Regions from separate parts of the Homo sapiens genome. Here regions 2, 3, 4, 5 and 6 are each reported to be linked to region 1. Evidence: microRNA targets listed by miRTarBase, many of them from high-throughput screens and not tested one by one. Region 1 holds a microRNA gene; each other region holds the end of a gene's coding sequence.

Evidence for each region. The annotated mature microRNA hsa-miR-101-3p reads UACAGUACUGUGAUAACUGAA and lies in region 1 at 1,092-1,112, shown strand. An mRNA with a match to its seed (bases 2 to 7 or 8) in the 3' UTR can be bound and repressed. Matches are read on the target gene's strand: a 7mer-m8 pairs with bases 2 to 8, a 7mer-A1 pairs with bases 2 to 7 and ends in A, and an 8mer does both.
Region 2: the mRNA of DIMT1 is a reported target of hsa-miR-101-3p. Seed matches in the 3' UTR shown: 7mer-A1 at 3,534-3,540.
Region 3: miRTarBase lists BCL9 as a target of hsa-miR-101-3p. Seed matches in the 3' UTR shown: 8mer at 3,433-3,440.
Region 4: the mRNA of CHAMP1 is a reported target of hsa-miR-101-3p. Seed matches in the 3' UTR shown: 7mer-A1 at 1,368-1,374.
Region 5: miRTarBase lists CBFA2T2 as a target of hsa-miR-101-3p. Seed matches in the 3' UTR shown: 7mer-A1 at 2,552-2,558.
Region 6: the mRNA of NKX3-2 is a reported target of hsa-miR-101-3p. The part of its 3' UTR that is shown has no 7-base or 8-base seed match.

The regions. Positions count from the first base shown.
Region 1 is chr9:4,849,254-4,853,341 of GRCh38, forward strand. MIR101-2 (microRNA 101-2) reads left to right here and starts at 1,044; the gene lies at 1,044-1,122. RCL1 (RNA terminal phosphate cyclase like 1) reads left to right here. Exons shown (of 9, transcript NM_005772.5): 8 at 194-297. It overlaps LOC124902113 (a long non-coding RNA gene), which reads left to right and starts at 1,114. Exons shown (of 2, transcript XR_007061402.1): 1 at 1,114-4,009.
Region 2 is chr5:62,385,149-62,389,236 of GRCh38, forward strand. DIMT1 (DIM1 rRNA methyltransferase and ribosome maturation factor) reads right to left here. Exons shown (of 12, transcript NM_014473.4): 12 at 2,106-3,904. The coding sequence ends at 3,862. It overlaps KIF2A (kinesin family member 2A), which reads left to right. Exons shown (of 21, transcript NM_001098511.3): 21 at 336-4,088. The coding sequence ends at 421. Among named protein-coding and RNA genes, the nearest start is that of DIMT1, 17 kb to the right of the region's middle.
Region 3 is chr1:147,624,720-147,628,807 of GRCh38, reverse strand. It overlaps BCL9 (BCL9 transcription coactivator), which reads right to left. Exons shown (of 10, transcript NM_004326.4): 10 at 2,592-4,088. The coding sequence ends at 3,849. Among named protein-coding and RNA genes, the nearest start is that of ACP6, 44 kb to the left of the region's middle.
Region 4 is chr13:114,325,859-114,329,946 of GRCh38, forward strand. It overlaps CHAMP1 (chromosome alignment maintaining phosphoprotein 1), which reads left to right. Exons shown (of 3, transcript NM_032436.4): 3 at 1-1,464. The coding sequence ends at 423. LINC01054 (long intergenic non-protein coding RNA 1054) reads right to left here. Exons shown (of 3, transcript NR_126391.1): 3 at 3,899-3,987. Among named protein-coding and RNA genes, the nearest start is that of LINC01054, 6.0 kb to the right of the region's middle.
Region 5 is chr20:33,644,001-33,648,088 of GRCh38, forward strand. CBFA2T2 (CBFA2/RUNX1 partner transcriptional co-repressor 2) reads left to right here. Exons shown (of 11, transcript NM_001032999.3): 11 at 347-4,088. The coding sequence ends at 646. Among named protein-coding and RNA genes, the nearest start is that of C20orf144, 16 kb to the right of the region's middle.
Region 6 is chr4:13,538,396-13,542,483 of GRCh38, reverse strand. NKX3-2 (NK3 homeobox 2) reads left to right here. Exons shown (of 2, transcript NM_001189.4): 2 at 1-1,654. The coding sequence ends at 491. Among named protein-coding and RNA genes, the nearest start is that of NKX3-2, 4.1 kb to the left of the region's middle. RefSeq lists a silencer at 51-180.

The DNA.
Region 1 (4,088 bases):
AATTAACTGTTAGTTTAACCCTCTACAGTTAGTTGATACAATGATTACTCTTATAAGACCTGTATTCTGTTTTATTGTTGCTTGAACTTTGGATTTTGATATTATGAGTGTATGTTTCTGGTTTTTTTTTTCCTCCTCTCTTTTGTTGGCTTTCCATTTTCTGGTTTGTACAATTATTAATTTGTGTTTACAGGGTGGATGCGTAGACTCGACCAACCAAAGCCTGGCGCTACTACTCATGACCCTTGGACAGCAGGATGTTTCCAAAGTCCTGCTAGGCCCTCTCTCTCCCTACACGTAAGTTATTCTTTTTCAACCTCGTTATTCTGTCCAGTGTAATTTTCTCATTGCCCAAAATGACAAAGGGTGTTGTGCTGCACAGAGCCTGCACTATGAACACCTGCTTGTGTTTATCCTCAAATCAGCCAGCAGTTGTCACTCTTAACCTGGTGTTTATTTTTACATACAAGGATTTTTGCATTTCTTTCCTTCCTTAATCCCAGGTAACTGAAATTGCATGATCTCTATTGGGCAGTTATTTTGTTCGTGCTTTAGATTTTGTTTCCAGGTTAGAGGTAAACTCCTGGTTTGGTGTAGCTTGGATTTTATTACTAGTTTTTTTTTAATCATTCTTTTCCTTAGCTGTCTAACTTGCTGTGGGAAAACAGGCTTTTTGTCTAAGATGATAGGATATGAGCTCACTGGGAAAGATGACAAAAGACAGAGTTTGTATTAATGCTACTGGACTAGTAGGGAATTGTAGAAGTGAGTTTGGATTGTTGAATGTTAGCAGAAGTTGACTGCTGTGGTGTAAAAGCAAGCACTCTTCAAAAAGAACAGTGTCAGAAGACTTGAATTATAAATGACACTGTGAAAGAAGCATTTCCTATTGATAGTAAATGAGGTTGCGGAAAACAGCCTATTTGAGTACTGACATTGTGTGTGTGTGTTTTCACGTGCTTGCATACTTGGAGATCATCATATGGCCCATCTGAGGTTGGTGAGCTGGGTGGCAGGGAATATTCAGGTAGATATGAGACTGAACTGTCCTTTTTCGGTTATCATGGTACCGATGCTGTATATCTGAAAGGTACAGTACTGTGATAACTGAAGAATGGTGGTGCCATCACATTGAGAAAGGGTTGAGGACTGCGGTGGGGCTATGCACCCTTGGGCCATGGCGTTGGGGGCATGAAAACCAGGAGCTTGAAATAAATTCTTATGGAGGCTTTTTTTTTTCTTTTTTTTTTTTTTTTTGGAATTCGTGGTGGGAGGTTTTTTTAGAACAGGAAAATGGAAGAGAATACATTCTGTTAGCAGAGAGGGAAGACTGATAAGCAGGAAACTGGTAAGGACCACATTATCTCCTGATAGCTTGTGTAAAAGTATTTCGTAGGACAGGATACCTAAAATTGAGTAATCCTAAATGGCGTGGTAACATCAGTAGTAAACAATGCTAAAATAGACTTGGTAGTTAAGTACTTGGAGAGGAGATGAGGGCTGGAAGAATGGCACCCTAGGTACAGAGACTCGCTTCCTGTAGAGAGCTCACTGGAGGCGGCTGCCAGCTGTGTGGCCACTGTGGCCCCACCGGCTTTGTAGCTGGGCTCGTAGCTGCCGTTTCCCAGCCCTTGCTTCAGGCCTGGGGAAGTCCTGCTTGCACACACGGTATGAGGTATGGGGTGTTGTCTTGAATGTGTGTGGTCCTGGGGCATGGGGTTTGGCAGAACATTCTGTGAAAATGGAATACATATATGTTTTTTTTCGTGACACTTTTTTTCTTTTGCTTTTGGAGATTTTTCAATTTGGCTCCAGGACCTGTATGATGTTTTCAAGCTTTGCAGAGATGCTCAAGATATGACTGGACATTTTTGAAAGTTCCTGTGTCCTCTTCAACACATCTTCTCACCAAACATTAATTGTAGTGTCTTTTCTTCCAGAAAACTTGCATAAAATGACTTCCTCTCCTGTGAAAACAGTGTCCTGCTCTGAATGGAGCTTTAAAGGAGTAGCACAAATTGTAAGATGATGTATCTTGAGGCTGGGGCTTAGAGATATTCTGCTGCCTCCCAGAGCTTTGTGCAGACGGGTCTGCCAGGGTGGGAAAGGGAAGCCTCCGTTCTTTTTGGTAAGCTAGCATAAAGACAGGTAAGGGAGTCTATTTTCAAGAAAGCTGGATCTGTTTCATACTCTTTCTGCCCCTAATCACTATGGACAGCTCCAGCAGCACAAAGAGATGAAGGGCAAAGGCAGGATGCAGCAGGCAAAGTTAACATTGTATTTGTGAGTACAGTTGAGGATAAAAAAGGGATGAAATCCACGGTGAGGACCATCATGGTGGGGGAATAGTTTATTCTAATGGATTCAAGAGCTTTGGAGACCAAACTAACACATTTATTTTTATGTGTAGTTAAAGTCATAGAAACCTGTTTTGTGAAACCTCAGATTTCTAAAGAAAACCAGAAGCAAGACCTTCCTTGGTTTAAAAAAAAAAAAGCATTTCTTCAAGCAGTTTGGACCTGTTTTTCGTGTGTATAAAACAGCTTTTTAAATGTCTATGTAAAGAGCATTGGGATTGCTGTTGGTGGTTTTCTGTGCTACTTGAGAAAGTAAGTCTGTATGTGTGAAACTCTTTTTTTTTTTTTGAGACAGAGTTTCGCTCTGTCGCCCAGGCTAGAGGGCAGAGGCGCAATCTCCGCCCACTGCAAGCTCCGCCTCCCGGGTTCAACGCCATTCTCCTACCTCAGCCTCCCGAGTAGCTGGGACTACAGGCACCCGCCACCGTGCCTGGCTAATTTTTTGTATTTTTAGTAGAGACGGGGTTTCACCATGTTAGCCAGGATGGTCTCGATCTCCTGACCTCGTGGTCCACCCGCCTTGGCCTCCCAAAGTGCTGGGATTGCAGGCCTGAGCCACCAAGTCCGGCCAATGTGAAACTCTTTTAGAAAGGCCCAAGAGATTTTTTTTCAGTAGAATAAAATACTGTTGGATAATCACTGGTATATGAAGATTCTATTTCTGTTAAATTTGTTGAGTTTTAGGTGGCTTACAGTTAGTGACAGTAGTTGCACCCTCCATTCAACAAGCTTAATTTTACAGTTTAGGGAGGGAGGATTTATACTTTTGGATTAACAGCAAGAAAAATAGCAAAAATTAAGATGCATCTTAATTAGCACTTTCAGAAATTATTTGTGGAATGAGACTGCAGTTACCAGAGCTCTCTGCATTCTGCCAGTGCACAAGTCTTGGAGTCCAGCCTATCTGGACTTAAGGCTCTACCACGCGCTACCAGGAGACCGTGGAAATGGTATTTAGCATCTTGGAGCCTTGGTGTCATTTGTAGATAAGGTGCGTGGTCCTGAAGTCCTGGACTTGTGGAGATGGAACGAAGCTTAGATTAAGTCAGATGCTTAGTGCTCCTGGCAACGTGCCTGAGGAGCTGTCAGTGCTGGGTGCTGTGGTTCCTGCCTGGACACCCCTTCACCCTGCTGCAGTCCAGTCCCTTGGTCAGGTCACTTTTTTTTTTTTTTAACTGCTCCTTGAGGAGCAGGACTACCCCAGAGGCAGTGTGGCTAGAGTAGCCCGGTCAGGTCACTTTGAACCCCAGGAGGCCTAGTAAACTTGCTTTGGGTGATTTTAGGGTTTAAGTCATCTGTAAGTGGTCTGCCCAGCTACCTATAAATCTATATCCATTAATTTTAAATTATGGATTAAAAAATTTTAATTTCTAGTTATTATTTTTATGACTGACTTCCCCTAGTCACATTACTGAGCAAACTACACACATCTTATTGATCCTAAGAATTCTGTAAGGTAGATGTTTATTTAAACAACACCGTGTTTACTGTGTGCAAGATGTTGTTTTAAGCACTCAGACATAATAACTTATCTGGTTTTCATCATAACTTCATAAGGGCAAAAAAGGCAAGTACTATCATGTGCACCGTCTTACAGGTGATGGGATTGAGGCACAGCGAGGTCAAGTTACGTGCCCAGGGTCACACAGACAGTAAGTGGGGTTCAGACCTGGACAGTCTCCTCCAGTCACTGCTTCCCTTACCCACTGTGCTCTTTTTTTTTTTTTTTTT
Region 2 (4,088 bases), not on the chromosome of region 1:
AAAAAGGTAGACTATGTATTTTACAATGTGAAACCTGCCTATACTCTAGGAGGAATTCCAATAAATTAAAACAGAGAACTGTAAATGTGCCAAACAGAACAGAAAGCTATTGAAAGATACAGAAAAACAGGTATTTCTGGAAATCTGTAACAAAAAACTTTCGCAATAGTTGAGCATTCTATTTAGTTCCGAGTTTCTAGACAACAAAGAACAAAAGGAAAAATACTGAGTTACTGTTAGGAAATAACACAGCTGACTTGATTGAACCCATAAAGTTGTAAACTCTTACTGCGTGTAATACAATACTTATTCCCTCTTTCTTTTCTTTTTCCAAGATAAAGTGAAATCTTTCCGTGCAGCTCTACAAGAGGAGGAACAAGCCAGCAAGCAAATCAACCCGAAGAGACCCCGTGCCCTTTAAACCGGCATTTGCTGCTAAAGGATACCCAGAACCCTCACTACTGTAACATACAACGGTTCAGCTGTAAGGGCCATTTGAAAGTTTGGAATTTTAAGTGTCTGTGGAAAATGTTTTGTCCTTCACCTGAATTACATTTCAATTTTGTGAAACACTCTTTTGTCTACAAAATGCTTCTAGTCCAGGAGGCACAACCAAGAACTGGGATTAATGAAGCATTTTGTTTCATTTACACAAATAGTGATTTACTTTTGGAGATCCTTGTCAGTTTTATTTTCTATTTGATGAAGTAAGACTGTGGACTCAATCCAGAGCCAGATAGTAGGGGGAAGCCACAGCATTTCCTTTTAACTCAGTTCAATTTTTGTAGTGAGACTGAGCAGTTTTAAATCCTTTGCGTGCATGCATACCTCATCAGTGATTGTACATACCTTGCCCACTCCTAGAGACAGCTGTGCTCACCTTTTCCTGCTTTGTGCCTTGATTAAGGCTACTGACCCTAAATTTCTGAAGCACAGCCAAGAAAAATTACATTCCTTGTCATTGTAAATTACCTTTGTGTGTACATTTTTACTGTATTTGAGACATTTTTTGTGTGTGACTAGTTAATTTTGCAGGATGTGCCATATCATTGAACGGAACTAAAGTCTGTGACAGTGGATATAGCTGCTGGACCATTCCATCTTATATGTAAAGAAATCTGGAATTATTATTTTAAAACCATATAACATGTGATTATAATTTTTCTTAGCATTTTCTTTGTAAAGAACTACAATATAAACTAGTTGGTGTATAATAAAAAGTAATGAAATTCTGAGAAGAGTTTTATCTTAGGAAAATACATATATATGCAGTGTGTGTGCCAGTGTGGTATTAACAAGACTAATAGTGCAGTTTGATCCTTACCAATATCATTACTTAATTTGAAGTGTTCATTAGCACCCCAAAATATACCTTTTCTATGTACTGTTAAAAGAAATTGGCTTCTGATGCATGAACATTTACATGTACATTGAAAGTAGTCCATAATAGAAGTTAGTTTAAGCCAAGTGTAGACAGTACATTACTCCCTTGAAAAAGAATTAAGTTGAAAGAGTTGACTTTGCCTTAAAAGGCAGATCTAACCCAAGCTCCATCCAGTACCAAATGTGAAACTTCATTGTTGTTTGGTGAGAATCGCCAAATTCTCACTAATACATTGGTATGGTGTAGGGCATGCTACTTTTTAAACAGCAGCACTTATTTTTACAGATTGCTACTCCAAGGAAGAAAACTGGCCACTTTTCATGTAAATATTTTGTTCAAAGATTTGTATATCTCTCTAGGAGTTTTCCCTCAGTTCCCAGGATGGGGTCCAGGAGTAGATTAACAGCTAAAAATCTCCCAAGGATATCTTGTTTTGATTTATTTACTCCAGGGAACTATCAGCTCCTTCACAGGAGCCAAAGGGGAGCTATGAATAGAGGGTCACATGAGCCAGATTCTTTACTGTTCATAAAACCCAGAGAGTAGTTGTGAAAGATCCTAATACAATTGTGAAAAGCTCTGTAAACATGAAATCTAAAACAAATGTAGATTTTCACAATATGCTTATTAATAAATGAAGTCTATGGAATAAGTTTTAGAGATAATTTACTTCAGTCACCTTTGTTTTGGAAAGGACTCAGGTTTTCTTGCAGCTGTAAGATATATTCTATTTGTGTTTATTTCAAAGGGAAGAGGAAGGATGGAGAACTGTTACAATTGACCTTGCAAAGGATATTTAAAAAAAAGGTAGTTTTTGAGATTAACCAACTTTCAAAGGGCAATAAAGACATGTGAATTTGCTCATTTTAAAGCACAACAGATGATTAGCTTCAAATTTATTATTTGCATTGGATGGGTACTGTCTTTGGAAAGTCTCCTTATAGACAAATATGCTGCCTTACACTATGATGGCTTCATTCTGATCAGGTATTTTAAAAATTAGTACCAGAAAAGATACTGGAGGTAATATAATACAGTCCTTCAGCTTTACAGATAGTGAAAACTGAAGGCCAGAAAAGGAACTAAAACTCAGCAGTTCATAGGGGTAGAGGGAAATAACCTGAGAAAGCCGAGTTAAATCTTAAAATTTTTACTATAAGGATAGAGATGATACAAGTGAACTCTGCAAAATAGTTTTGTGAAATTAAACAAAAAAATCTACTCTTAATGTATATTATTTCATATTTGTTTAACAAAAGCAGCTTGATGCCTTTGTTCTGGATTATACATTAAGAACAAGCATTATTTTAATTATGTAGTAACATTTACTATGACTTTGAAGCCAGATTTCAAAATCTGGCTTTGTTAAATTAATTGGAAACACTCTTCTATTAAGTTAGGTATTAAAAAAAGCCAAATATCAATAAAGATATTTTTATTAATTTTTTATAGAAACAAAATAGCTACTATAACTCTATTATAGTATATTAACAGCACTTAGTATTATATTGACTTAAACATAGTAGCTAATAAAACTAGTTTATGACATCTATTGAAATTCTCAGTCTGACAGTTTTAAAATAGCTTAAAACTAAGCACCAGGTATATGAAAAAGGAACTGGAAATTTTAATTGTCCAGAAATCATAGGAATACTGGGAACCTGTAGTTATGGGAAATGGCTGTTTTTCTGAAGTTGAAACCAGTTTCAATTACAAAACCCTCTGAAATTTTGCTAAGCCTATAGTTATCTCCCTAAGAACCATAAAAAAAGATAATTTTATTGTTAATTTCATTCCAGTTTAGCTTCCTCATTTTACATGTTGGGAGTCATGCCCTTTAATATGCCTGGCACTGCACGGTGGCAGTAGCAGACTTGGGCTTACCCAGAACCCTAAGTCTCTGACGCTATAGGATAGCGAAAGAGGTAGGCAATCGTAACAGACACTGTATAGGATAAATAGGGAAGAGAATGAGAGAACCAAAATAAAAATAATTTAAGAAACAATTGTTTTACTGTACATGTGAATAACAAGAAATGGTACGGGGAATGTGAATAACACGAAATGGTATGGGGAATGTGTGACTAGTGAAGCATATTTTAACTTTTTTATTACTGGAGGAACAGAGCTAAAGGCCTAAAGAAGGCCTTACAGTATATAACAGTAAATAGAAGAGTAACATCTTTATACAATAAACTGTTAGAAATGATAAGTGTAAAGTTGTGCGTCTCTGCGGCTCCTGAACTTGAAGATTATTATGAATAGATTGGACCAGCATTATATATTAAAAACTTTGATACTTAGAACTTTCCAACTTTAAAATTCAGAATCATAAATGGTGACAACAGTAGTAGTATTGAACCAAAAATAGTCAAGTAAATAATGTCTCAGTAAAGCAAAAGCATTATCTTCTCAAATACAAAAAATACAAAATTCATTTCTTTTCTTGACCTTGAAAATTTCTGTTTTCCAAATACCTAGGAAAAATGAATACCTTCTGCGTTGAATCCATGTAGCAATCTGAAAAAAGAAATCAAAATGGAATGGTACTGAAAAGCTAATTTGTAGCACATAACGGTATATAGTTCTATACCATTAATACTAAAACATGAATACAGCATGCTTACAGAGCCCACCCACTCCTAATACTAGTTATTAAAGAAACGTTACTGGCTGGGCGCAGTGGCTTATGCCTGTAATCCCA
Region 3 (4,088 bases), not on the chromosome of region 1:
GCAATCATCATATTACATCGCAATAACTGGTTTACACACCTGTTTCCACATCCCAGCCTTTGCACAGTTCTTGATACACAGTAGGTGCTCTATAAATATTTGCTAAATAATGAGTCCTCGGGTTAAAATGCAACTTCCCTCTCCTTTCAGCACCCTGAAATTACTCAGAAAAGGAAAAGGAAATGACTGAAGTGTAGACAGTTTAAGCGGAACACAGCAAGTACCCTGCCTGAGGTGCTCCTGGCCACTAGTTAAGGAGAAAGAATAAATATGGAGACTGAGGTCCCAGCACCTCTGTGGAGCTGTTGTGATTTCTGTTTACAACAGCCTGGCTAAGCAATCTGTGGGACCCAGGGCGAAATGGAAATGTGGAGCCCCTATTCAATAATTAAGAACTCCAAACAGTGACAGCGGAGCATTAAACCAAGCCGGAGTCCTGTCCAACTGCACAGGTGGCACAGATGACCACAGTTGCGTTGTGATGATAATATCAAGAAGTATAGAGCGCAGGGAGGCTGGGAGAAATGTTGGATCCATTTTTTAAGGAGTAGCTTTAAATATGTAAAATTGTTTTCAATTTATTTTCTCATGCCGCCTCCTTCATAAGACCCCTATAATTATGTCTGTTTTCATGTATAAGTGCAGAATCGTTTCTAAAGTAAATTATTTTATTTTACATTGTTTCAGGGAAAATGCTACATACTTCTAGTTAGTCCTTAACAAATGCTATGAGCCACACACACTCCACCACTTTCCCCTGAAGTGAACAAGTCACTACTGCATTTTCTCCATTCAGTCCCAAACTTCAGGAGAGGAAAGAGAGAAGATTGGCTGGGCTTTCACAGGAATATGTTAATATGAAACATCTTTCATCACTCTTCCACTGATTTTTAAAAAATCTTGCATCAGTTCTCCATGCACTAGCATCCAGTCTCTCTAAAGGTAATTTTATTTTATAACAATCTTAGTAAATGATAAATTGTTGTATTTAGACCCTAAATTTGGCTTGTCAGACATTATCGTGATGAAATGGCATGTGCTGATAAAGTGAATGAAGTTGTATGATGGGGTATTTTAAAAACTCAGGTGGGGAAGTTGATCTGCACTGCCCCAAGTTCTCCAGCAGGGGGCTGCGAGAGGAGTGCCACACATCCAGCTGCCCACAGCAGCCAGACCCACCGGTCTCTTGCTAGCCCTCTAAGTGAGTACCTGCTCTCCTATGTGGGTACCTTTTATGCCTTGACTCCCTGCCTGTGAGAGTAACAACAGGACCACACACCATTAGTGACTGCAACACTGTTGGGTACAGCAAGGAGGGGAGCAACCCAAGAAGCCAGACCAGTAGACAAATGCCAGGTGGGACCCTTCCTTCAGGTTCTCATCTTGTGCTGCCCATGCTTGGCTGTTAGTCTGTTCTCATCTATATACTTTAAAGCCAGAGAACCCAGAAACATGGCTAAGTTCGTGAAACAAAATCTTCATTTTACTATCCTAATTTCTCTACAACATGAAAGTTTCACTACCCAGCACCAACAGAATACATCAGATTGAATCAGAATTCTTAAACTTGTGAGCTCAAGTTTTCTCATCTGCAAATGAGATCATTACCACTCACTTCACAGGGCCCCTTAAAAATCAGCAAGATAAAGTGCAGGGAGGCGACTGGTAGAGTAGGTACTCAAATGTTCATCTCCACATTTTTTGTTGTCTGGGGCACTTGTGTTACTGAGAAGACAGGGCTGCTGAAAAGGAAGAGAAAATGGCTCTCCAAAACAATTGTCGGAGAGAAAAGCTCAGACTGTGAAACACCAGCAGAGCCCAATTTGTACAAGTTTGTTTGCAGATGACTCTGCACCTGCCGCTCCTCGCTTAGATTCTCTCACCTAAGAACAAACACGCACACAGACGCCCACTCACTGAGCTAAAAACACCTACAACTCAAAGAAATACACACACCAGAACAGAATTAACTGCACAGAAGCACAACAGCAAGTCCATTAGCACATACCTTGCAGGATACACACTGATCTGCTGAAGATGTGTGTGGTGAGAAGTGAACTGTGCACAAAGACTGAGCAGCGTTAGCAGAGGTGATGGGGTAAGGGGGAGGTGGGGAGCCAGAAAGGACCACAGAAACCCACGGACTGTGGAAACCCATAATTTGCAGGTATAGTAATAATATTCTACCTTAACAAGACCAAGGGACATCTCATAGCTTATTCAAATAACTAAACATACAACCTTTGGCCTTCTTAATTACTTCATACCACTAAACTGGCTCTCACAAACATTCCTAATAAAGACCATTAATTGCCCTAAAGGTAAAGTTCAGCAATGGGACCAGGGTTGCTCTTCTGCTTATAACTAGGATTTCATGACTGAGATAGGAACAGTACAGAATAAACCTACATGAGTAGTTATTCCTTAACAGCATGGAATATGCTTTGAGAAGGTACTTTTATGTGGTTTCCCTAACCATCACCTTACTGATCAACTCCAATACAAAGAGTCTACGCTTCTGGGTCACATGGCAACCGGTATGCCCAATACTAAACAATCAGGAATCCAAATGAACAAAAAAGGCAGTTCAATTTTGTAAGAAACAATATATTTTATTTTTCTGACACCACAGCTCTGGCGAGTGGTTTTGTACCAAATTTAATGGAGGTTACACAGAACGTCTTACGCATGGGAGGGGGAGGAAAGGGAAGGAACCACAAAATTTAAAACAAACAGAAACAAAATCCTGGATAGCTTTTAGCATCTGTTCCACTCCCACATTAATAAAATTCACTTGGGAATTCCTAATAAAAGGAGAACAGAAAACAAGGTGGGCAGGGAAGGGTATGATGGGAAAGAGAAAGACTTAGGGGGAAAAAAGACCAGAGAGCATCCCAAGGACAGACCTTTCCCTCTCAGAGCCAAGAGGACGCTCGGCATGGAAGGCGAGGCTTTGCTAGATTTATTTCCCCAAAATAACACTGTGTATTGCAGCTGCCAAAGGGAAAGAGAGAGGGAAGCAGAGGGTCACCAGCGGGGGGCACAAAGGAAGGAAACACTTAACTGAGGAGACAGAGCAAAATCGGAGAGAGAAAACAAGAGAAAAATGTGCCAGTGGGTTGGTATATTGGGAGACAAGACAGTGCTGAAGAGCACTTGAACTGAAAAACAAATGTCCTAAGAGTCATTATTTTTCAAAAGAAAAATCTCCCCCCTCCCCCCACCCCTCGCTGAACTTAGTTCCTTTTTTTGTGCTTTTCATTAATACTCTGCTCTGAGGTCGTAGTTTGGTTTTTCTATACACTGCAGTTGAAAGAAAATAGTCCAAAGGTCTGAAGATGGATTCTCCACCTAAAGTAAACAGCCCAGCATTCCTGTTCTCCTCTTGCCCCAAAGACTAAAGTCTCTGCTAAAATCCCTTTTACAATATAGTACAGTACACAGAAAAAAATAAAGCCCAAATCAAAAAAACAAAAACAGAAAAGAATCCTGGGAGAAGCCAGTCCAAAGGACGTAAACATACAGAGAACGGTGCAACACATGACCGATGGCAATTCTCAAAGCACAGCTACAGATTCCCAAAAGTAGGTGCCATCATTGATACCCAAGTCCACAAAAATAATTTTTAAAAAATAAATCTTAAAAAAAACACACCTGTTGATTAAATGAATAATTTGTTTTCAGGTAAATCCATACATTCTCGAGTTCCCCCCTCCCCCAAAGCAGCCCTCGGGTCTCTGTTCTCCTATTGCATGACCAATAGTAAGTACTCCTGGAACTCCCTCAAAGCAGCTCTCAGGACCTGGAATCTCATCTTGACAAGGATCGGCACATCCCATCTTAGCAGCTTAAAACATCATGTTTCCTGGGTTGCCAGGTCCTTGGCTAAATCCACCCATGCCCACGTCAGCAGCCATGCCCCGGGGCCTCATCTGTGGGGGGATCATGATGTTCTGTTGGGGTCCCATCATGCCCTGCATGGACATCATCATGCCTGGAGAGCCCACAGGCCCAGGGTGGGTGTAGAGCCCGGCAGGCCCCCGATCCTTGCCAGGAATCATGCCCACGGCAGCAGCTGGATTGCTCAT
Region 4 (4,088 bases), not on the chromosome of region 1:
ATGACTAGTCCAGAGCAGTCTAGAAATGTGCTACAGTTTACTGAAGAAAAAGAAGCTTTTATCTCTGAAGAGGAGATTGCAAAATACATGAAGCGTGGAAAAGGAAAGTATTATTGCAAAATTTGTTGCTGTCGTGCTATGAAAAAAGGTGCTGTTTTGCATCATTTGGTTAATAAGCATAATGTTCATAGCCCTTACAAATGCACAATCTGTGGAAAGGCTTTTCTTTTGGAATCTCTCCTTAAAAATCATGTAGCAGCCCATGGGCAAAGTTTACTTAAATGTCCACGTTGTAATTTTGAATCAAATTTCCCAAGAGGTTTTAAGAAACATTTAACTCATTGTCAAAGCCGGCATAATGAAGAGGCAAATAAAAAGCTAATGGAAGCTCTTGAACCGCCACTGGAGGAGCAGCAAATTTGATAACACAGTGTGAATATTTGTTCTACAAAGGTGTTTGTTGGAACCATTCTTTGTAAGTATAGCTTATCAGATAGCATAGTTGGATCAGTAGATGACATGTATGGTGTACCGTGTTTCACTGTCTCAGTTGTGTTACTAAGAATGAGCATTTGATCATTTTTTTCTGGTCTCTGTCTATGTGACTATCTTGTAAGTCAATAAATTTCTGTATAGTCCAGATGGATTAAACTTCTCATTTCTTTTAAATATGTATGAATAATAATACAAGGAAGTAGGCATTCCATTTAATAATCAAGAGCAAGTTGTACTCAAAGCATTCAGTTAAAGTGTATCTGTGTGTGGAACTAATTTCAGACAATAGAAAATATTAGTTGAAATGTTTAAGAATTAGGCATGAAAAATAAATTTGAGAAATTTTGTTTCCTTACATGTATTTTTAAATCATAAGAGTTATTTTCTATCTGATGTAAAATTAGTTTATAAATCTTAATCAGCTTCTAGATGTTTATTAGCTTTTATGTCATGAAATGTTGGAGTCTCAGGGTTGCTGATTTTCTGCTAATGGGAAAAATTGACTAAGTCTTTAAAATAGTTTGCAGCCTTCTCCCACAGGAGACAAGTGAAAGATAAGTGTGATTTTAGATCTTTCTTGTCCATAGTTGTTTTCAGTGGAGTCTTCCATTCTGTATCTTACCCTAAGATCTGGTTCTTCCCTCCCCATCCCCACCCCCCACCCACCGCCTGCCAGCTCACACTAATAGATGATTCTTAATTGCCAAATGTGTTAGAGTTTGTATATCCTACTCCTGGGCCTTACATGTCGCCTGTTGGGGCTTAAGACCAGGTTGATAAGTAGGAACTGAAAGTCTTCCAGATTCACAGTAGAAAATTTTATAGACATTTCTGTTAAAGAAATATATCGATTTTATGTTTTTCAATTATGTTACTGTAAATACCTTGTACCTGTTCATGGATTATTTTATTCTAAAATATTTTGTCAAATGTGTATCAACCAAATTAAAAAGAAAGGTTTTCATGTCAGCAACATCTTCATGTGTGTTTTCTTTTGTGTAGTTTTCATTGTATGATATACAGATCCATTATTTCCATGTTTTCAACATAGTTTTCTTATCTGGAGCAGCATTTTCTTAGCTGTGTTTTCTCCAAGTTCTGTGGTCAAGTAAGTTAGGGGAATGCGTGTATAGGGAGGACTCTGTGTCAAAAACCTCATCCTTTCATATGAAAGGTTTTTTAATTCCAGTGGTTGCCTATCCTGCCTGCCTCTAAACAGTGTGAGGCATTTAATCTCAAAGCATTCTGATGTGTAGCCAGGATTGAGATGCTGTACTGGGTTTATTTTAGCTATTCCCAGACATTTTTTTAACAAGGAACAGTTTTGTCCTAGTTCCCCACCCGCTGGCTTCCCTATTAATATGCCCGTTGGGATAGCTTAACAATATTTAGTAATATGGTTTGGCTCTGTGTCCACACTCAAATCTCTCTCTTTTTATTTTTGTTTTTTATTTTGAGACCGATCCTTGCTGTGTCACCCAGGTTGCTGTGCCGTGGTGTGATCTTGGCTCACTGCAGTCTCTGCCTTTCAGATTCAAGGGAGTCTCGTGCCTCAGCCTCCTGAGTAGCTGGGACTACATGTGTGTGCCACCACATCTAGCTAATTTTTGTAGTTTAATAGAGATGGGGTTTTGCCATGTTGGCCAGGCTGGTCTCGAACTCTTGGGCTCAAGTGATCCACCTGCCTCACTTGAGGGAGTGCTGGGATTACAGCTGTGGGCCACCACACCTGACCCCCACCCAAATGTCATATTGAATTGTAATCCCCAGTGTTGGAGGAGGGGCCAGCCTGGTGAGAAGTGATTGGATCATGGGGGTGGACTTCCCCTTGCTGTTCTCGTGATAGTGTGTGAGTTATTTAAAAGTGTTTAGCCCCTCCCCTTCGCTCTGTTCCTCCTGCTCCAGCCATGTTGGATATGCCAGCTTCCCCTTCACCTTCTGCCGTGATTGTAAGTTTCCAGAGCCGCCCTGCCTCCTGCCCCAGCTGTGTTTCCTCTGCAGCGTGTGGAACCATTAGCTAATTAAACCTCTTTTGTTTATGAATTACCCGGTCTCAGGTCTTTGCAGCAGTGTAAGAACAGAGTAATACATTTAGATAATACCAAGTAAGGTCTTAGAAGCCTCAGATCTGTTAACTTCGGTGAACACAGCACTGAGTAGCTGCTGCTATCAATTTACGTGGCACCTTGAGAACGAGCTTCCAGATCAGGAGTTCCCTTCTAGGCAGTGATGCCAACAAATAGGACAGGTAAGATATCTTGGATATACTAGTTGTCCTTTTCTTGTCGATACTGACTGACTGAAGTTGTTTTTGAGAAACAAAAAGGGTCTGCATTACCTAGAAACTCTCCTGGCTCCTGCAGTCTCAGACCAACCCTGTTACACAGATTCTTTTCTAAGACTTCACCCTGTCTGGTGCAAACCTGGCAGTTCATCCTAGACCTTTGCTCCAGGTGGCACCAACTAAGTCACATGACTTGCCATCTGATTTGGGGTTTTTTATAATAGTGCCATAGGATAAGAGTTAATTGCCTGGGTAAGTGGTAGTGATGCATGTGTAGTTTTGGCTTTTAAGGACTTTATTTGGCTAAACCCCTGTGTTGTTGGTTTACCTTACTGGCTTCCACTCTTTCTTTTTTTCTGTTTTTGAGACTGAGTTTTGCTCTTGTCTCCCAGGCTGGAGTGCAGTGGCGTGATCTCAGCTCACCACAAACTCTGCCTCCCGGGTTCAAGCGATTCTCCTGTCTCAGCCTCCCAAGTAGCTGAGATTACAGGCGCCTGCCACCACACCCAGCTAATTTTTGTATTTTTAGTAGAGACAGGGTTTTACTATTTTGGCCAGGCTGTTCTTGAACTCCTGACCTCAGGTGATCCACCCACCTTGGCCTCCCAAAGTGGAGGATGGAGACGTATTTAAAAGCACTGAGCACAAAGGAGGCACTCAATCCATGGTGGTAATTATTATTCTAACCTTATTAGCCCCCTGCCGATTCAATGTATACCATTCACTAGTTTGTTTAAATAATTTGTGAATCAGTTTATATTTTCAAGTTGCCATATGTTTTAGGGTTCTCCGGAGAGTCAGAACCAATAGGATATATATATGGTATAGAATGGTAACCAGCACTCTACACTCTGTTTTTATGAGTCTGACTTTTCTAGATTCCACATACAAGTGAGATTATGCAGTATTTGTCTTTCTGTGTCTGGTTTATTTTACTTAACATAATGTCCTTCAAATTCATCCCTGTTGCCATAAGTGGCAGGATTTTCTTCTTTTCAGGCTGAATAGTATTTCATTGTGTGTGTGTGTATATATATACACACAATTTGCTAAGCAGGGAGATCCGCAGACCCTCTTGGCTCCCAGCATGCTGGGGTCAGGTTTGCAGTCTTAGGAGATCGGTGAACTCTTTTTGGAGAGGATCTGCAAATACCAACAGTTTCAGGGTTTCCTCAGGTCCAGGAGTGCCAGGCTCCTGTGCACTCTTCCTTTGGGGAAGCAAAGGAAGACTCCATCAGTGCACACAGAATGCATTAATTATACTTTCTTATTTTCTGTTTTCTTCATGCTCTAGCATCTGGGGTTTACT
Region 5 (4,088 bases), not on the chromosome of region 1:
TGACTATTAAAATGAGCCAAAAGATGAGTCCATGCCTTAGGCAGGAGAGATGGCCACCTGCCCTAGGCTGGTGCTGTGTAAGGTATTTTCACACACACATCTCATTTCACTGTTCCTGTCATCTTGCAGGGAAGTAGTTTTCTTGTTTTACAGATGAAGGAAACTCAGAAAGGCAGTGTGTATTTCTCATAGTTAAACAGCAGTAGAGGGCGGAGTTGACCACAGGTGTATGTAGTTCCAAAGCTGGGGTTCTCTACATACAGCCCCTTGCTTTACTGTGCAGGGAATGAATGGCAAGCCTGCCCCTCAATCCCAGCAACCACTAACTGATGCCTGTGTCTTGCAGAACTGCTGGAACTGTGGCCGCAAAGCCAGCGAGACATGCAGTGGCTGCAATATCGCGCGATACTGTGGCTCTTTCTGCCAGCACAAGGACTGGGAGCGGCACCACCGCCTCTGTGGTCAGAACCTGCATGGCCAGAGCCCCCACGGCCAGGGCCGGCCGCTGCTTCCTGTAGGCAGGGGCTCCTCTGCCAGGTCCGCCGACTGCAGCGTGCCCAGCCCAGCCCTCGACAAGACCTCGGCAACCACATCGCGTTCCTCAACACCTGCTTCTGTGACAGCTATCGACACCAACGGACTCTGAGCCCCGGACTCTGCTTACCCTGATGGCTGCTCAGCACCACAGAGTGCTTGGGCTGAGGGACTGACTGTTGGAACCCGTGCATGTAGCTGCCGGGTCATCAGCAAGAAATGAATTGGAGGCAGGAAGAGTCCAAGCCTGAATAATAACACCCCACAGCCTCTCTGTGCACTTGCTGTCTGCGGAGCCAGTGTGCCATTCTCTGCACATGGGCAGCCAGCCTGAGCTGCCTCCTCCATGGCTTTCCTGGTTTGTTCCTCTCTCCACTGAAGCTGACTTAGCCGGCCCCTTTTCAGTGTAGACCACCAGCTCCCCTCCCCATCTCCTTGAGTCAGCAGACTGTCCAATGTGCTCAGCCAGGCTGGAGGCGGCAGGCGGCAGGCAGCAGGCTGTGGAGGAGGCCCCTCGGTCAGGGAGCGGCCTGCCTCACCCCTGAATAGCTCCTTCGGCCCCATCTCCATCCTCAGCAGATGACACTGATTGGCCTCACGGGGACTTGGGTAAGCAACAGGCGGCATTCAGGACTCTTCTCAACCCTGCTGTTCAGACTTGATAAGATCTCAGAGTCCACAGGAAAGAAGTCACTGTTGCAATAAAAGCACCCGTAGTAGCAAAAACATAAAACAAATAAAACTTCCCCCACATCACAGATGATTTTGGACAAGATTTTCCAACCTTGCTGGCTACTTTAGTTTGGGACCTGTTTTTTTTCTCATTTGATTTTGCTTGTGCAGAAAATAGTTTCCAGCACATGGATTGATCTGAGAGAGAATGAGGCTCAGTTGTGGATAGTCTGTTTTCTCTGAGCATGTTGGCCAACTAGTATCGTCAAATTATTGAGTGGATCATCTCTTGGAAATGCAGAACTTCTGCCACCACTTGGCTATTTGCACAGTCATCTTGTTCTGTGTCCTTTTATCTCTCAGACCACACACATCTGGAACGCTGTGGGCATCTTCTGCCCATGGGCTCCATTTGGCACCTGCTGAGCCACAGTTGTCCTGCTGGATGTGCTGTGCAGGTTGGTAGGACTTGCCCCCACTGTCAAGGCCTGGTCTCATCTGAAAAGCCCTCCTGGACCTCAAAGAATTCTTCAGACCTCATAGTTACAGGTCATTATATCTACTATGTTGATTTATCATCAGGCACACAACTTCTGTTTCCTTCTCTTGTGTTATCTGATAGCGTCCCTCCTTGAGCTCATCAGAAAGGTTTTATGAAATGTGAACCATTTTGGGAAAAGCTGATCAATTTTTCTTCCTAGCTTCCCATTTTCAAATGGGACATCACTCATATCCCTTTCAGAATGTTAGGAACTGCCTCCCACATTCTTCCCTGTCTTTTTGGGTTTTGTTTTTTGTTGTTGTGGTGGTTTTTTAACACAAAGTCTCACTCTGTTGCCCAGGCTGGAGTGCAGTGGCATGATCTTGGCTCACTGCAACCTCTGCCTTCCAGGTTCAAGCAATTCTCCTGCCTCAGCCTCCCGAGTAGCTGAGATTACAGGCGCCCACCACCACGCCCAGCTAATTTTTGTATTTTTAGTAGAGACAGGGTTTCACCATGTTGGCCAGGCTGATCTCGAACTCCTGACCTCAGGTGACCTGCCTTGGCCTCCCAAAGTGCAGGGATTACAAGCGTGAGCCACCATGCCCGGCCTGTCTTTTTGGTTTTGATGGGAGTCTGAGGACCCCGACCCCTCCTGCTCTCCATCTTTGAGCCTCTGGCATCCTCTCACACCCAGAAATCAGTTGGAGTAAGTTTAATTGGCCCTGCTCCAGCTGGCCTTTGAAGCACAAGTTTAAATCTCCACCTTCTGTGCACTGACCAGAGTCTAAAATAAAAGTTGTCAGTACCATAAAGGAAAAGGGATCCACACAGGTAGCCTTCTCCTTGGATACAGGTACATCTTACTGTAAGAATTTCAAGTCCTGGCTGGGCGCAGTGGCTCACTCCTGTAATCCCAGCACTTTGAGAGACCGAGGCAGGCAGATCACTTGAGGTCAGGAATTCAAGACCAACCTGGCCAACATGGTGAAACCCTGTCTCTAATAAAAAAAAAATAGAAAAATCAGCCGGGTGTGGTGGCACACACCTGTAATCCTAGCTACTCAGGAGGCTGAGGCAAGAGAATCTCTTGAACCTGTGAGCCAGAGGTTGCAGTGAGCCGAGATTCCACCACTGCACTCCAGCCTGGGCAACAGAGCAAAACTCTGTCTCAAAAAAAAAAAAAAAAAGGCAAAATTAAAGAATTTCAAGTCCCTAATTTACTCTAACCAAGCATTTTCAGTCTTACAAAGAAATCTAGTGCACGACACCTTTAAAATGCCTAGATTTCCATTGCCTAAAGTAAGGTGTGACCAGTGAAACAACAGCAGAGAATCATGTTCCTTTGCTGTGGAACACATAAGCCCCACAGTTTTCCAGTCAGCCTAATACATGGGTATCCCCCGACCCCATCTGCCTCCTTAAGCCACAGTCCTTGGTGGGGAACTCTAAGGGGGACGGAGTCAGTACCCCGGACAGGGCCACATTTGCATGAGACATGGCTGTCTCACAGGTCACAGAGCCATTACAACAGCTTACTAGTTTTTCATGGATTTGTTGGATTAACACCTTAAGCAGGTTTTTTATTGTTATTTTGTTTGTTTGTTTGTTTTGAGACGGGAGTTTCTCTCTTGTCTCCCAGGCTGGAGTGCAATCGCGCAATCTCGGCTCACGGTAACCTCTGCCTCCCAGGTTCAAGCGAGTCTCCTGCCTCAGCCTTCTGAGTAGCTGGGATTACAGGCATGCGCCACCACGCCCAACTAATTTTGTATTTTTAGTAGAGACGGGGTTTCTCCTTGTTGGTCAGGCTGGTCTCAAACCCCGGACCTCAGGTGATCCCCCCACCTTGGCCTCCCAAAGTGCCAGGATTACAGGCATGAGCCACTGTGTCCGGTCTTGAGCAGGTTTTTAAAATCTCCAGTGGCCATAAAACTAGCCAGGGTAGCTCATGCTTTTACTGGTTGGAATAAGGAGCCAAAACCAACAAAATAATATTTATTAGGGCTCGATGCCCATTTCTGTGGCTAAGGCTTAGGTTTGGTGTGCAGAGCCTGGCCTGCTCTTGTGGGCTGTGGTTGCTGTGACAGTTTCGTTTTCTGAATCTTTGTAATGCTCTTCCACCCTGCTCGTGCTGCCCAGAGGCTGATCTGCAAACCTGGGCAGTATTCCACACTGAAGCTCAGTTTGCAAACCTTCTGCTGTGTTAATTCTGGTCAGTTTCACACAGAAGTCACGAGGGCCTCTGCCCAGGACCTTCTATTCACATTTCAAGAATCCCTTTCTGAAATTCTCCAACTCTCTGGTCAGGAGGAGGAGCACCATTGGGGCGGGGTAGGCAGCTAGAGGCGCAGGAGCGAATCCAGGTTCCTTGCGTGGTTCCCAGCCTCTGCTGACAGCACCT
Region 6 (4,088 bases), not on the chromosome of region 1:
GTGCACACGTGTCCGCGCTGTGCAGCGGGGCCGGCGGCGGGGGCGGCAGCGGGCCGGCAGGCGTCGCGGAGGAGGAGGAGGAGCCGGCGGCGCCCAAGCCACGCAAGAAGCGCTCGCGGGCCGCTTTCTCCCACGCGCAGGTCTTCGAGCTGGAGCGCCGCTTTAACCACCAGCGCTACCTGTCCGGGCCCGAGCGCGCAGACCTGGCCGCGTCGCTGAAGCTCACCGAGACGCAGGTGAAAATCTGGTTCCAGAACCGTCGCTACAAGACAAAGCGCCGGCAGATGGCAGCCGACCTGCTGGCCTCGGCGCCCGCCGCCAAGAAGGTGGCCGTAAAGGTGCTGGTGCGCGACGACCAGAGACAATACCTGCCCGGCGAAGTGCTGCGGCCACCCTCGCTTCTGCCACTGCAGCCCTCCTACTATTACCCGTACTACTGCCTCCCAGGCTGGGCGCTCTCCACCTGCGCAGCTGCCGCAGGCACCCAGTGAACCCGCTTGGGCTGAGGCAGCGAGTGATTCCCGCGCTCCGGCTCCGGACCGGCGCTGACAGCTGTAGGCTGTAGCCTGCACGGGGCGCCCCGCCAAGGAGGCACCTGGAGGTGAAACCCAGCTCCAGCTCCCGTTAGCCAGGACTTGTCCCCTGGCAGCTGGGCTGAGTCTGCCCTGAGGGGGCGCCTTTTTCTAATTTGAACAGAGGCACCCTATGGCCTAGGGGCCCTGATCGCCCACCTGCCTGGAAGCCCCTGGGCTCTATTTATTATCATGACAATGTTGGAATTAAATTTTGATTCGAATATGTCTGCCTGGGGGTGGGGTTTTCCCTGAGCGGCAACTCCTGGAGACCACATAGCCTGAATCCTCAGAATTTCAGGCCTGCTGGGAGCTTTCTGCACTAGGCCACACTAGTTCATGGTATCCATGCTACCAATCTATGTGTATCTACATATCTTTTATTTTTGGAAATTGCATTTGTAACCAAGGGGTGCGAAACCCTGGCAGTCCCAGGCAGCACCAGGCCAGGGGTTGATTTGAAACGTGAAGGATTGGGTTTTCAGGCCCTCTGCTCCACCCCTCCTGTGTGTCAGAGCTAGGGTGGGGGTGCCCGATTCGGGTGCTGAATGTAAGGAGGGGAGCCTCCAAGTGTGGTGCAAGCCGGGGGTCTCCACATCTTCCTTCTCTGAAGTCCAGGTACCTGCACAAGCAGGAAGCGCCTGGGAGTCCCGGAAGGAGGAGAGCGCACACCCAGGCAGCCCTCTGCGGAAACTTTCCTTGGTTTCTTTTTATTTGTGTAAAGGAGGTTAAGACGTGTCGCACTTTTCAGTTGTTTGTATTCAAATGACGATTATTTTTCTACTCAATGTGAATATCCCTGGCCAGCCTTTCCACGGCGCCCACCGCAGTGCCGCTGCCTGGCCCTCAGTGTCTACCTTCTGCCCTCTGCGACTCCAGTGCTCTGGCCCGGGACTCCCCTATCCGCCCCTCACTTACCCTTAAACAGGTGATCCCACCTGTCTTGTCAACCTCGCCGCTTTTCGCCTCCTTAATGGCACTGTGCACTCAACTAGAGTATTAACTGTAAAAAGATTTGTGAAGTTTGGAAGCTCTATTCGCTGTATTTTTTCTTTAATTTATAAACTTTTAGTTTAACATGCCCTCCTGGACGCCGCGTTTTCTCTGAAACTGTCTTTTCCCGACTTTTGGGGAACCAGTAAGGCGAGCTGGAAATAGCTGGGGCTTTTTCCAACCTCCTTTTAGTCTCGGACCAAGGATGCTTAGTCTCTCCTGGGAGCAGCCCTGCTGCCCGCCCACTCCTCAGGCAGGTTATAAACCTGGGCAGCTCAGAAAAATCATGACTTCGGGGGCTTTGCAGGAGTAATGGATGAATCCCACTGAAACCGGGAACAAATTCCTAGGATTTCTCCCCATCCTCCCTGTGAGCATTGGTTTCAGAGCCTAGTAAGAGTCCATGGTTGAACCCCCAGCCAATGTCCATCCCCCATCCCAATGTACCGACCCTTTCATCTCCCCTCACCCCACCCCACCCTGTTCTCTGCTTTCGATTTTAGGAGCGTTTCTCTACCTTATCTAGTGTTTAGTTTTGAGAGTGGTTTAGTGAAAACTCCCGCTAAAATTCTGAAGCGATTAGTTGCAAACCAGGCGTGAATAACCTGTCTCTCGGAGAAGGGTCACCCGAGCGTTTTCCTCGGACGGGTGCAATTGGGGCTCTACAAGGTTTCAAAGCGCTTCCCCGCACTCAATGAAAGGGCGTCATTTGGTACACACCGAAGCCCACCCGGGGAGCAGAGAATGGGCAGGGCACCGTTATTTATTACCCCATTTTACAGATGATCATACGCAGCTGGCGCTCCCAGACTCCCCAGAATGCTACGGATTCACTGGAGCTAAATGCTCACTTTCACTGGCAGCTCAAGCCGAGTTCCCGGCGAGCAAGGAAGAGTTAATGCCACATTGCGGGCGTTGAGGCCTCCAGTCCGCTGGACCCGAGTCGGGAAACACCAAAACCCTGGCCAAGGCTTCTTTCAATTTCACCTGGGGCCGAAAGGTCGATTAGCTCTCCAAGGCAACCGCGACTTTTCCCAGCCCCCGGGCCTCCAAGCTTTGGTACCCTAAAGGCCTTGGCCTGGGGTCCCTCAAGCCCTCGGATCTGGCCCGGGCGGAGCGTGGTGACCAGCGTTTTACAAAATTATCCCCGCTTCCAGAAACAGCAAAATGTAAAGGGAGAAGCAAAGGCCCTCGGGATATGCACACTCCCACCCGGTCCCCCACTGGAGTCCAACTACCTTCCATATGGTTCTTGCAATCATCTCGTTTCTTTATAAATGCAATCATCTCGTTTCTTTATAAAATGCTTTACAGTTCTATTTAAATTATACAATTAATCATGACTGTGTTTTTCTTGTAGAGAGTTGGAACATTTCCGATAATACTAGAATCTCCTCCCTTCTTCTCCCCAGGGATCACTACTTACTGAGGGGTTTTTTAGGAGGAGGGATTTTCTCCCTTTCTGAAAAGGCAGTTGCTTGTTGCTGCGTCTTAAGAGGGTAGTTTGTTCTCCATCTTTGCCGATTGGGCGGTGAAAGAATCCGGGAGTTTCTTTAGAGTAGGAAAAGCCACAGAGGTCCCGGTCGCACCCCTGGCGGCTCCATCTTCCACCGCAGACTCCACCTACCCTGCGGACCCGGGCGCCCCTTCCCTTTCTCTCCCACTCTCGGGCCCCCTGCCTGGGCCAGCTCCGCGGACTGGCTCCGGCTGCCCGGGGAAAATGACTCAAATGAATTCAGTTTGATCCAGATTATGGCTGTTTCCCTCCAAGCTGTCCCGCGGTTTGCCTTGGCGAGAATGCCCTGAGGTCTGATTCTGGGAGCTGGAGGCGACCTCTGGGTCCAGCCTGTCCTCCAAGGAGTTCTCGCCGTATTTTGCGACCCAGACCAATGTCTTTACCTGGGTCTTCTGCCGCAGACGCGGCTCCCGTTGAAAATTTGCAGTATTACTTTCTTCCTTTTCTTTACTTTCTCCTCTATCTTCTCTCCGCCTTTCTCTCTTTTTTCTTTCTTTTTTCTTTTTTTTGGAAAGATGAAGAACAGTCCTGCTCCCTACTCGAGGGTATCTCTGTTCACCCACTGCCTGCATCCCTGTGCTGCGCTGAGCCCTCTCGGCCTTCTCTGGGCTTGGTCCCCGGAGCAGTAGCAACTGCCGCCTGGGCCCAATGAACCTTGGGCCTCTTCATCGTTCTCAGTCCCTTTGGCGCTTAGCGAATCTTAGAACTTGGCCTTGGGGATTTTCGAATTAGATCCACCCACTCTACAGATGGGTAAACCAAGGCGAGGGGAATGGCTGGTAAAGGGGGCGGAACATCATGTCACTTGCACTGAAATTGGTCCCAAGGATTCAGGCCGAGCCCACAAATCTTACTCCTAGCAGCAAATTTGGGATCAACCAGCTGCCAAATGTAGCTGGTGGGTCTGCGTGTGTGTATGTGTGTGCGCATGCGTGTGTGTGAGAGAGAAAGAGAGAAAGAGAAAGAAAGAAAAAGAAAGAAAGAAAGAAAGAAAGAAAGAAAGAAAG